Linked DNA regions of Homo sapiens: region 2 is linked to region 1. The links come from fine-mapping of genetic effects on gene expression. Tissue or cell type: sun-exposed skin. Region 1 holds a variant in brackets; the other region holds the start of a gene. All regions are shown on one strand. Distances are between the middles of the regions.

Region 1 (5,383 bases):
CCACCAGGTTCCCAGCAAGGCTGGGGCCCCTGCACCTCCTCCCGCCCTCCACACTTAGGCTGCTGTGCCAAGGTTGTGTTCTCTGCCCTGTCCCACTCCATGGCGGTTACCTTGGCACTGGGCAGAGCGGTAAGCACTTAATTGCCACATTAAGAAGGGGGGATGTAAGAAACAAAGGTAATTGTGTTGGCAGCCGGGAGCTTCCTTTTCCTGGCAACAGTGACAGCCAAACCAAGCCCTGAGAAGCGGCTGCCTCCCCTCCTGCCAAGCTGACGGACACAAATAAACCGCCATCCAAACGGCACGCGTGCGGCGTCCAAAACCCCAGGCTGCTGCGACAGGCAGGCCCGCCGGCGGCACGCACATCCTGGGAATGCCCGACGTGCCAACGCGGCCATTGTGCACAGTCAGTCGGCTCCCAGGGTTCGTCAGGGGCCCTGAGCTCTGCTGACTCAACTGTTGCTTCCTGTCGCTTGTCCTGTGTTAGCATTATTTTTGGAGAGGCCCTATTATTCTCCATAATCCTCATTTCAGTCAATTCGGCCAACTCTATTGTCCTGCCTGTGTCTGGGTGGCCAGAGTATAAAATATTCCAGTCACAAAACATATTAAGCAGAAAAGGTTGCAGGGAGTCCATGTGTGGCGCATGCACACGTACTCATGCACACAATGCGAGTGGGTTTTGGGAAAGTGAGATAAGAAAGGACAACTATCCTATAGCATCTAGGCTAAGACTTCAGGCACAGAAAGCAATCAAGTCTGTAGGGCTTGACATGTCAATAGAGTCCGATCTGGTTACAAAGGGTGATTTTCTCATCAAAGCCCACTCAAAGGCTCACCAAGGGGCCCCAAAGCTCATATCCAGATTTGTGACTCTCAATGAGACATCCCCACCCCCTTTCCCATCATTACCCTTACCTGTTTGAAAAGCATCCCACTGATAATTAAATGCACCAGTTACAAAAGGGTGGCGAGGTTAATAGATAGAATACCAAGAAGCCAGCCAAGCACAACGGTCTGGTTCACACAGAGCAAGCCTGAACAAGAAGCCTTTCTGTTTATTTACCAAAAGTGCATAAAAACTGGGTTGAGCTGGTAGAGGACTCTGCATGTTTGACTATTTATGTACTCCTTTAACTACTGGGAGCCACCTTGCGGAATTTCTTCCCAGCACACGCACTGCACCAATGGTAGATGTCACTGGCACCATAAAAAAAAAAAAAAAAAAAAAAAACAGCAGTCACAGGGCTGCTGTGGTCCATGCGGTAATCAGAAATCAGCAAAGAAGTCACAACACAGCCACCCAGTGCCATGCACCAAAGTAAAGGTGGGATTTTTCTGAACCCAGGACCCTCCTCCATTTCCACCACCATTTTAGAATCACCACTTTCCATTCATCCCAATGTATCTTCCAACAGTTGGAAGAAAAGATTAAGTTTTGAGAGATATATATATATTTAAAAGCTGAAGCCAAGAGTCACTTCTCTCAGCAGCCTAGATCCTAGGCTTGAAGGATGGGGGTAGGTGGAAGAGCAACATGCCTTACAGAAGTTTACCATGGAAGAATTTGCAGGAGTATTTGCATTTATGGATTACAACGCTAATTGTATGCACATCCAGAGATCATGCATTCTTACATTGTCACTAACCTTGAAAGCCGGACATTGGGACCAACTTCTGGCCCTTCTACAATGGGGCCAGTGGGTGATATGAATCCAGCCAAGGCCTCTGGTTCACATTCCTGTTTTCAGATCAGGAACTGTGAAGGCTCCTTGTTACCTTGACACTGTTTTTTTTTTTTTAAGTAACTTTTTTCTCCATGCTAAACTTTCCACGTCTTCTATCTAAAAGGTCCCCAAAGGCACCACTATTTGGTGTGAAGATTTTGAGCAGCACTTAGATTGCTGATTTTCTGGGAGGTTGCATGCCTGTAAGTTGCTGCTGACTCTCCTTTTAACCCACTGAACTCCCCCAAGAGCCTCCACGCCAAAGTTTCACCGTTTTCTAAAAACATCTTAAGTCCCTGTAGAATTACGGGTGTGGAACTGGTGGGTTGCAAATTCCTATAAGTACTGGAGGTTTGAATAAGTTGCTAAGAAACAAGACAACAAGGAGAAAGAAAACACAGAAGGTTACACCTGCAAGAGAAAAAAAAATTAGAAACCAAGTACCTGGAATAAAGATTCCATTTTTGGAGCAGCTATTCTGCAGATACTTAGCACAGCTCTTTCAAAGCAAGCACAGCTTCACTTTCCCCCAAGCCCAGTGTTGCAACACAGATACATCACTTCATCCCTTTGGTTTGAGGTAGACTTCTTAGGGCAAAAGGCGTTTTCTCCACATGCAGAAAGTCCCTTGCTCTGAGCACATACGTACACACATGCTCTTTCTTTGTATACATGCTGACTACACGGGCAGGATGCAAATCCTGGCTGCAGAAAGGAGGCAGGTCAAATCAGAACCCCATCCTTAAGCCCTCCATGTGCCCACACCATATCTACAGAAGCTCAGGGACTGGAAAAGACAGCAAAAGGCATAAAAGTAAGGGCCTGTCAATTACATTCTGTGATTAGCATCGTGGCAATTGGTCATTCAGGCCTGAAGCATGAAGGGGGCCAAAGCTGGCATCCCTCACACAGAAGAATCACGTTTCATTGGATTTTCCAAAAAAAAAAAAAAAAAAAAAAAAAAAAAAAAAAAAAAAAAGTTGATCTCAGCAAGTCTTTTAATAGGATCAATGGAATTTAAATATGAGGCTAATAAGCCAGATACCCCAATTTCTTCCCCTAACGTTTCTCTAGATTCATTTCACTCTGGGGCCACCGATGCAGCAATACAGCTAACTGGGGTTCTGAAGTTCCCAAAAAGCTTTTGGAGATGAGTAGTGGTAATTACACTAATGTATTTTTAATAAGCAGGCACTACTGGGATTTAGCACTAATTTTGGGAGGTACAGATTAACCGTTTCAGTGATTTATAAGTGGTAATTCCTAAATTATTTCCTGTTAAGCCCAATTACTTCCCACAATAATGGTTCTTATCACTTGGTCCCCCAATTTGAGAATCATTAATCCAGATAGTTGCTGCAAGTTAAGCCCCTTAGAGCAGCAACAGTATGAGAATTAGAAGCCAGTGGTGAAAAACTACCCCAAGACCAGAGCCGGGGCAGGGGACACCACGT[G/A]GGACATACTCAGATATGATATATGACAGGAAGGGCCACCTCTACAAAGCCTTTCACATGCACACCAGAACATGGACTGTATTTCATATCTGACCAAATCGTTTCCTCCTCGTCCTCTCTAGAACATGAACAGTTGCTTGGATAGGGGTCATAATTCCAAACAAAAAGCATGAACTACATGACCTTCTACACTGACCTACCCCTGCACCCTTTGCTGATACCCAGCGTCAGCAAATTTGGGAGGACTCATGCAAATGGTAATTGTGCCTGCTAGGGGTTGGGAGCCCAAGGTGGTTTGGAGTTTTGTTTTGTTTTTAACCATATATCCTTTTCTTGCTATCTCTTGAATTCTGTACTAAGTTCATTTATTTCCCATTCAAGGAAATCAGTTTTAAAAGACATAGTTAATTGCCAAACTAAATGAAGCTGTGCCCTCTAGTTAAATACTCGCTCAGCTACTTAAGTGTTTCAGTTACGTTTCTACTCAGCCTGGAATCATTCTTGAAAGTTACGGACTGTGCCGTTTCTCCAACCACATACAGAAAAACAAATACACCTAAACTCCAATTTCTCTTGAGAATTAAATCTTATGTTTCACAGCAGGCCTTTCTGGGGCATCAGGGTGGAGACTTGTTTATGAGTGATACATGCGTTTGTCCCAACTTCAAAAGAACCACATTTTCAGTGGTGCCCCATCGGTCTTCCCCCATTCGAGAAAAGCCGAGAGTCTATTTCATGGTTGGTGACCCGTGGGGCCTGAAACCACAGAAGAGCACCAGCAAATGCAAATCAATCGCCTCTCCTACCCTCCCACACTATTTCCGCTCGTTTTCCATTGAGGACTCTGACCAAGTGTCAAAAGCGGACAGACGCACTTTTCTAGGTCACTTTTCCTTGGCCAGCGAGGGAGCAAGCCTCCTTGTTTTCATGTTAGCCATCCCTCTGACCCTACTCTCCAAAATGAGCCTCAGCCAGGCTGCTGCTTTTCCACATCACTAATAAGATTCCTTTTATGGTCTTGTGAAAAGCGAGGGGCTCCAGACAGATCCTCCGGCAGGAGGGTGGAACCACCTGCAGGCCCCTTCCCCCTAAACTCCAAACACACGTTCAAGGGCAGTTTGAGTATTCACAGTCAGCTTGGGCCAGCCAGATTTAAACGCAGCCAGACTCTTTAGCTTAAAGTTCTCCCTAATAGGGGATTAACAAACAAGATAAATACTCTTGGTAAAAATGAAATCCCACAACAGAAACAGCCCTTGGACCTCAAGAGAGCTTCACAGACAGCGTTGGTTTTAATTTTTCTTTTTATAAACCCCTTTTCATGGCAGTTTTTGATAACTGTCTTATCTCACCCACAGCAGAGGGCACTTTATAATGCCAGCTCCTGTAATCGTGGATTTTAAGAGCCACCCCAAGCTTCATACACAGACACAGCCAGATAGTCTCCCCTCTGTCTCCTCCCAGAATCACAACCTAAGCCGGCGGACAGGAGGCAGCAGAGTGCACCCCATTAGAGCACGTGGTGGAAAGCAATGCTCTGGGGCACCGAGCTCCCCCTCTCACCACCCACCCTCCCAGCACAGGCTAGGCCAAGCCCCAGTCTTGGCAATGAGTCATGCCTCCTGGACAGCAGGAGCCAGGCAGAGGGCACACCCCCAACATTTCCCTTTCCTCCCCTTCTGCAATCGCACCCATCTTCCTTCCACCCATTTTGGGATGTTGCAAGGGCCTCGCTGCAGGATCTGCCAGCTGGGCCCGGGCCTCGAGCTCCTTTGGGGGCGGAATGGGGCGGGGGGATGAGGGCCTATCACTTACACCCTCAGGCACTACCTCCAGAAGACCACCCCTTCCAAGCCTTGGCACGGCCCCCGAAGGCTTGCGGGGGCCGTGCACCCGCCCTTCCCGGGGAAGTCTGCAAACACAGCTGTTCCAGAGCCCGGGAACCGCTGGAAGTGAGGCCACAAGAGCTACACCACTCGGGGGCGGGGGCAGGAAGGGGCCAGCAGCGGGCGGGGGTTCCCAGGTCTACAGCTCCTGTGAGGGCCCCAAGAACCTCCTCCTGCGGCGGCCGCCCCCGGCCCTTAAGCCGAACCTGGAGAGCGCCCCCGCACACACTAAAATCTCCCGGGGAGCAGCGGGAAACGGACTCCCCCACACCCTCCAGGAAGGACACACCCGCCCTCCCGGCCGTTCACGGGAAAG
Region 2 (5,383 bases), 360 kb after region 1:
ATCTCAGCTCACTGGAACCTCTGTCTCCTCCCTAGTTCAAGCGATTCTCCTTCCTCAGCCTCCTGAGTAGCTGGGACTACTGGCGTGCGCTACCACACCTGGATAATTTTTGTATTTTTAGTAGAGATGGGGTTTCGCCATGTTGGCCAAGCCGGTCCCAAACTCCTGACCTCAGGTCATTCACCTGCCTCAGCCTCCTAAAATGCTGGGATTGTCTACTTGAGCCACCGCACCTGGCTAAAAATTTATGTTTAACTTTTTAAGATTTTCCGAAGTGGCCACACTATTTTACATTCCCACCAACCATGGATAAGGATTCCAATTTTTCTACAGCCCAGATAATTCTGGTTATTTTCTGTATCTTTGATTATAGCTATCCTAGTAGGTATAAACATGTATCATATTGTGGTTTTGATTTGCATTCCCTAATGACTAATGATGTTGAGAATCTTTTCATGTGCTTATTTTATATCTTCACTGGAGAAATATCTATTCAAGTCTTTTGCCCATTTAAAATAGGGTTGTATTTTATTGTTGATTTGAAATAATAACTAAACCTTTCTTTATGCCAGATATTTTTATTCTGGACACCGGACTTTTATCAGATATAAAATTTGGAAACATTTTCTGCCATTCTGTGAGTTTTATTTTCACCTTATGAATGATGTCTTTTGAAGCACAAATGTTTTTAATTTTGATGAAGTCCAATTTATTTATTTTGTTTTGGTTGCTTATGCTTTTGGTGTCATATCCAAGAAATCATTGTCTAACACAAGGTCATAAATCCTGGCACCAATGTTTCCTTCTGAGAGTTTTATAGTTTTAGATCTTACATTTAGATTTTTGATCTAAAAAATTTTGATTTTGACTTTTGTTTTGAATAAATTTTTGTATATGGTTTGTGGAAGGAGTCCAATTTCATTCTCGTTGAGGTGGATATCTAGTAGCCTCAACACCATTTGCTTGGAAAAGACTACTCCTTTCCCCTATTGAATTGTCTTGGCACCCTTACTGAAAATCAGTTGACCACATAAATGTATGTGGGGTGGTGGCTGTTTTTCTCAGTCAATCTTTCTTCTCCAGCGGCCTTAAATATAACCCCGACTCATACAGTGGCCCCAGCTTTTGTCTCTGGTTGTGAAAGGCCACATGTTCCTGCAGGAGTTGAATTTAGGCTACCAGCAACTCTGTCCAGCACAAAGCTCAAAAGGCAGGACTACCACCTCTTACTTTGTTCTCTCTTCTTTCACTTACTTTCTGTTTTAATATTAACATCTACTTTGTTATGTGATTTTTTTTTGAGTAATTAAAATATTATCTATCTATCTTCTACCCAATATTTTTGTGTATGTATGGGGGGGTGGTGTTTTTGTGTGCTTCCTTTTATGTTTTGACAAAAAATAAATAGTACATATAATTCTTAGGTTCTGTGTCATGTATCTACCATTATGTAATGCTATGAAACGACCACAAATTATCAGCTGCATGCAACAATAAGCACTTACTACTCACAGTCCAGGGATGGTTGGTTGGAAATTTCTGCTGCTTTTGGCTAGGATCGTCTGATGGTCTGGGAGCTGAGTGGCTCTTGGCTGATCTAGGCTGGCCTCAGCTAGGATAACAAGGACATTCAACTTCTAGTCAGGTAGATTAGGAATTTCCTCATGGGATTGCAGAGACCAAAAAAAGGCAGAAGCACATTTTCAGTTCTCTGATACTCCTGCTAATATTGTTTGGGTTAAAATAAGTTGCATATCTGTGCTCAGAGTCAGGGGGTTGGAAGGTTATGCTGCTCATGTTGAGACAGCACTGAAAAGTGACATGGAAAAGAGCAAGGATATGTGTAGGTGTGTGAAGAATTGGAGCCATGTTTTGCAACCATTCGACCACAAGCGTTTAAAAAATATATATTCTATTACTCCATAAGAAAAAAAGAGGACGAGGGAGAGAAACATGAGGAGGATAGAAGTAACTGGTGAGAAATGAAGAAAATTAGGATTACATGATATTAATAATTGTTGAAGCCACCTAATGGGCACATTGAAATTTCACTATCCTGTGCTCTATACTTTCATGTGTTTGAAAATTTTTCACTATATAACAATAAAATGATATATAGTCTATGTTTGTTGGCTATAAAAGTCTTTATTCAGATATATTATGTCAAAGCTGTTATTTATTCAAATCTTTTATATTTCTAGTTATATTTTTCTACTTTTTAAAAAAATTTTTTAGGTAATTGTACTAAACTCTTCCACCATAATTGTGATCTCATCTTGGGATTTGCCAAAAAACATTTATAGCATGTCTGAGAAGTCCAGAGGAAGTATATATCTCCTCTTTGCTCCAACCTTCTTGTAGCAGGGTATGTGTTGAATCAGTCTGTCCTGAAATGTGTGAGTCTTTTAAAAAACTGAATACTATTGGTCATTTTTGTTTGGAGATTTCTAAGGCAAGAAGTTTGTCTAAGTACCCTAAACCAGCTGGGCACTGGGGGCCAGTGACAGGACTAGGAAAGAGATACTCATGTCCATTTCAAAGACTTTTGCCCTATGGAAGAGGCTTCTGTTAGCTTCTGTGACCTCTGGTGAGTTGATGCTGGCATTAGCCACTGGGCTGTCTTGCTGATAAATTGGCTAAATCATTAGACATATTCCCAGAAGGGAGTATATGGTGAATGGCTCATATGGGCCCCCGGGAAGGTGGCTGCACCTCTGAGGGTCCTTTGTGCTAAGGGAGCAGAAAAGGACCTCGCTCATGTGCTGGATAAACATATTTGTCACTGTTTTCATTATTTCCCTATGTATAGTTTTAAATTTTTCATTACAAAGTCATTTATTTAAAATAGTATGTATGCACTGGCAACCAATAATTTTCCCTTGGACACAGTCCTGTGGCAAGGATCCAATGTGATAACATATCAAGTTAACAGAATATTTTCAAAATACTCAAATTTGGTCTCATAAATTACTGAAAATATTCATATTCAGTATCATTGTTGTTGAATTAGATGTAGAAATAGGTGACAGTGGCCTTTTCCTATGCCCTGAAACCTCCTTTTGCCTTATTGCCACCTTTTGATGCGATGCTGAACAGGTTGACCTCTGAATCTTGAAGAGCCCTTTGTTTTCCCTCCTGATATCATGTTGGAATTTGGAAGAACAGTGGGTCTTTTGGTTCACTGCATTCCACTGGGACCCTTCCAACTCCAGCTCATTAGAAACACCCCCGAGCCTGAGGACTAACTATGATGTCATATGTCATAGCAATGAAGTAATTATGGCCGGCCAAGGCAAAGAACAATTTTATTTTTGCTGCTTTGAGAATTTTCTCATATTGCTTCAAATGTAACTCCCACCTTTCAAGTAAAAATTATTATAAGTAGATTCCCAGGGTCAAAAGAACAAGTGGAAACTTGTTGGATGGGGTCAACCTGGAAACTGCTGAGATATTTGTATACATATTCCCTTTATCTTGCTTTGGCTCAGTTTTTTTTTGTTCCTTTCAGGTGTGCCTAATATTATACTCTGTGTTTTGAAAGGTTTGAGGGAGAAGGCTGCAAGGAGTCCTGTGGGAGGCCCTGGGGTCTTATTAGTTGAAGGAAACAAATCATCATACCTTTAATACTGGCTCCAATTTGCCCCTTTCATGAGTAGTCTTGGAGAGATAATTGCTAATCTGGAATGGACATACTTCTGTAAGTTTATATCAAATACATTTTTTCCATTAAATAATATTTTTCTGTATTCCAATTTTGAGGAAAGTAAGTTAATTTAATTTTTCTTTTTCCTCTGATATACTTTTTAATGAATAGATTGAAAATTAAGGAGTGCCATTATATATACACTACTCACTTTAGATACAATGCTTTGAAAATTAATGAGTGCCATTTTATACACACTGCTCACTTTAGATACAATGCTTTATATATCTTAACTCATCTCTCAAACAGTGATCTTGGTTGGCATTTTTCAAACTGTGATGAAGACACTTTTTATAGCCCTGTTCAGAATACAGAAGGAGACCTACTCTTCTTTGATCACAATCTAAAGACAGACAGAGGACATGTGGAAAGGTAAAGAAAGTTCCAACATTCAGTAGGGAGAATATCGTCACAAGCCTTCCCTCTTTATCTCCTTTTTAACTCTCTTTTCAGATTAGGTTTGTGAGGAGATGATTTATAAAAGGTAATTTGTTGATCTTTTTTCCCCGGAGAAAACATATATGGTTTTCATCTTAGTCTCTGCAGGGTATGTGACCCACAATATATTCAGAAACCTCCAAAAACAGTACTGCTATTTACTATTATAAATGCATAAAAATAAAAAAACTATACATAGAAAATTAATAAAAGAAAGATATGAATCTTTTCTTTCACGTCTTTAACATGGCAGTACGTAAGTATACAATAGAAGTGATATTTTCATTCTCAGTCACCCAGTTTTATATTTCAGAATAAATTTTGACTTCCTTCTCCTTTTTCCTTTTTCTTTTCTTTTCTTTTCTTTTCTTTTCTTTTCTTTTCTTTTTTCTTTTCTTTTTGATGGAGTCTTGCTTTGTTGCCCAGGCTGGAGTGCAGTGCACGATCTCTGTTCACTGTAACCTCTGCCTCCCAGGTTCAAGCAATTCTGTCTCGGCATCCCGAGTAGCTGGGATTACAGGCATCTGCCACCACGCCCAGTTAATTTTTGTATTTTTAGTAGAGATGGGCTTTCACCATATTGGTCAGGCTGGTCTTGAACTCCTGACCTCAGGTGATCCGCCCTCCTCAGCCTCCCAAAGTGCTGGGATTACAGGCGTGAGCCACCGTGCCCAGCCCTTTCTCCTTTTTCTTATACTCATACTCAAGCAAATGTTATTTTCTTCCAGAGGTAGTGTATTAATCTGATTTTGCTACAATAATACGGTGTAACAAACAACCTCAGATTCTCAGTGGCTTCCATGAACAAACATCAGTAACATATATATTTCTTGCTTATAGATCTGTCATGGATTAAATATAAACAAAAATGAAGCAAGAAACAAAACTAGTCTTTCAATGAAAAGCTGAAGATGCTGAAGAAGAAATGCAAAATCATTTCACAAGAAAAACAAAATCAGACCAGGATCACTTGGCGTACCATCCTAGCAAAATATATCTTCTTGGAGTTGCCCTGACAATGCTCCTCAAAAACTACTTTCTTCATCTTCTTGCGGGTTAAATACTGGGATTAAATCCTAGCATAAAAATTACATCTAAAATGAAACACAGCTCTTCACCATTGTTGACCTCTTTAACACCTTAATGTCTACTCAATCTGTTGTTCCTTTTAACTTCACTAGTGTATTTTTCACAACCAAAATTTTGGAATGATCTTGAGCTCCTTCATGATTTTCTTTCCTT

Direction of the effects. Positions count from the first base shown, and alleles are read on the strand shown. Sizes are in standard deviations (SD) of each study's normalised expression.
For the expression in sun-exposed skin of the gene that starts at base 2,335 in region 2, A is the high allele of the variant in region 1 and G is the other (moderate effect, 0.59 SD a copy in GTEx).

Evidence for each region. PIP is the estimated chance that this variant, and not a neighbour inherited with it, causes the effect.
Region 2: LINC02871 starts here. The variant in region 1 is the best candidate, but not a certain one, in a credible set for the expression of LINC02871 in sun-exposed skin (GTEx, PIP 0.56).

Annotation. Positions count from the first base shown.
Region 1 is chr20:10,666,883-10,672,265 of GRCh38, forward strand. The region is part of intron 2 of JAG1 (jagged canonical Notch ligand 1); the gene reads right to left. Among named protein-coding and RNA genes, the nearest start is that of JAG1, 4.4 kb to the right of the region's middle. RefSeq lists silencers at 3,760-3,809, 3,860-3,909. The variant G/A (reference allele first, on the strand shown) is at 3,182.
Region 2 is chr20:11,024,210-11,029,592 of GRCh38, forward strand. LINC02871 (long intergenic non-protein coding RNA 2871) reads left to right here and starts at 2,335. Exons shown (of 4, transcript NR_146878.1): 1 at 2,335-2,365; 2 at 3,542-3,697; 3 at 3,953-4,075; 4 at 4,982-5,157.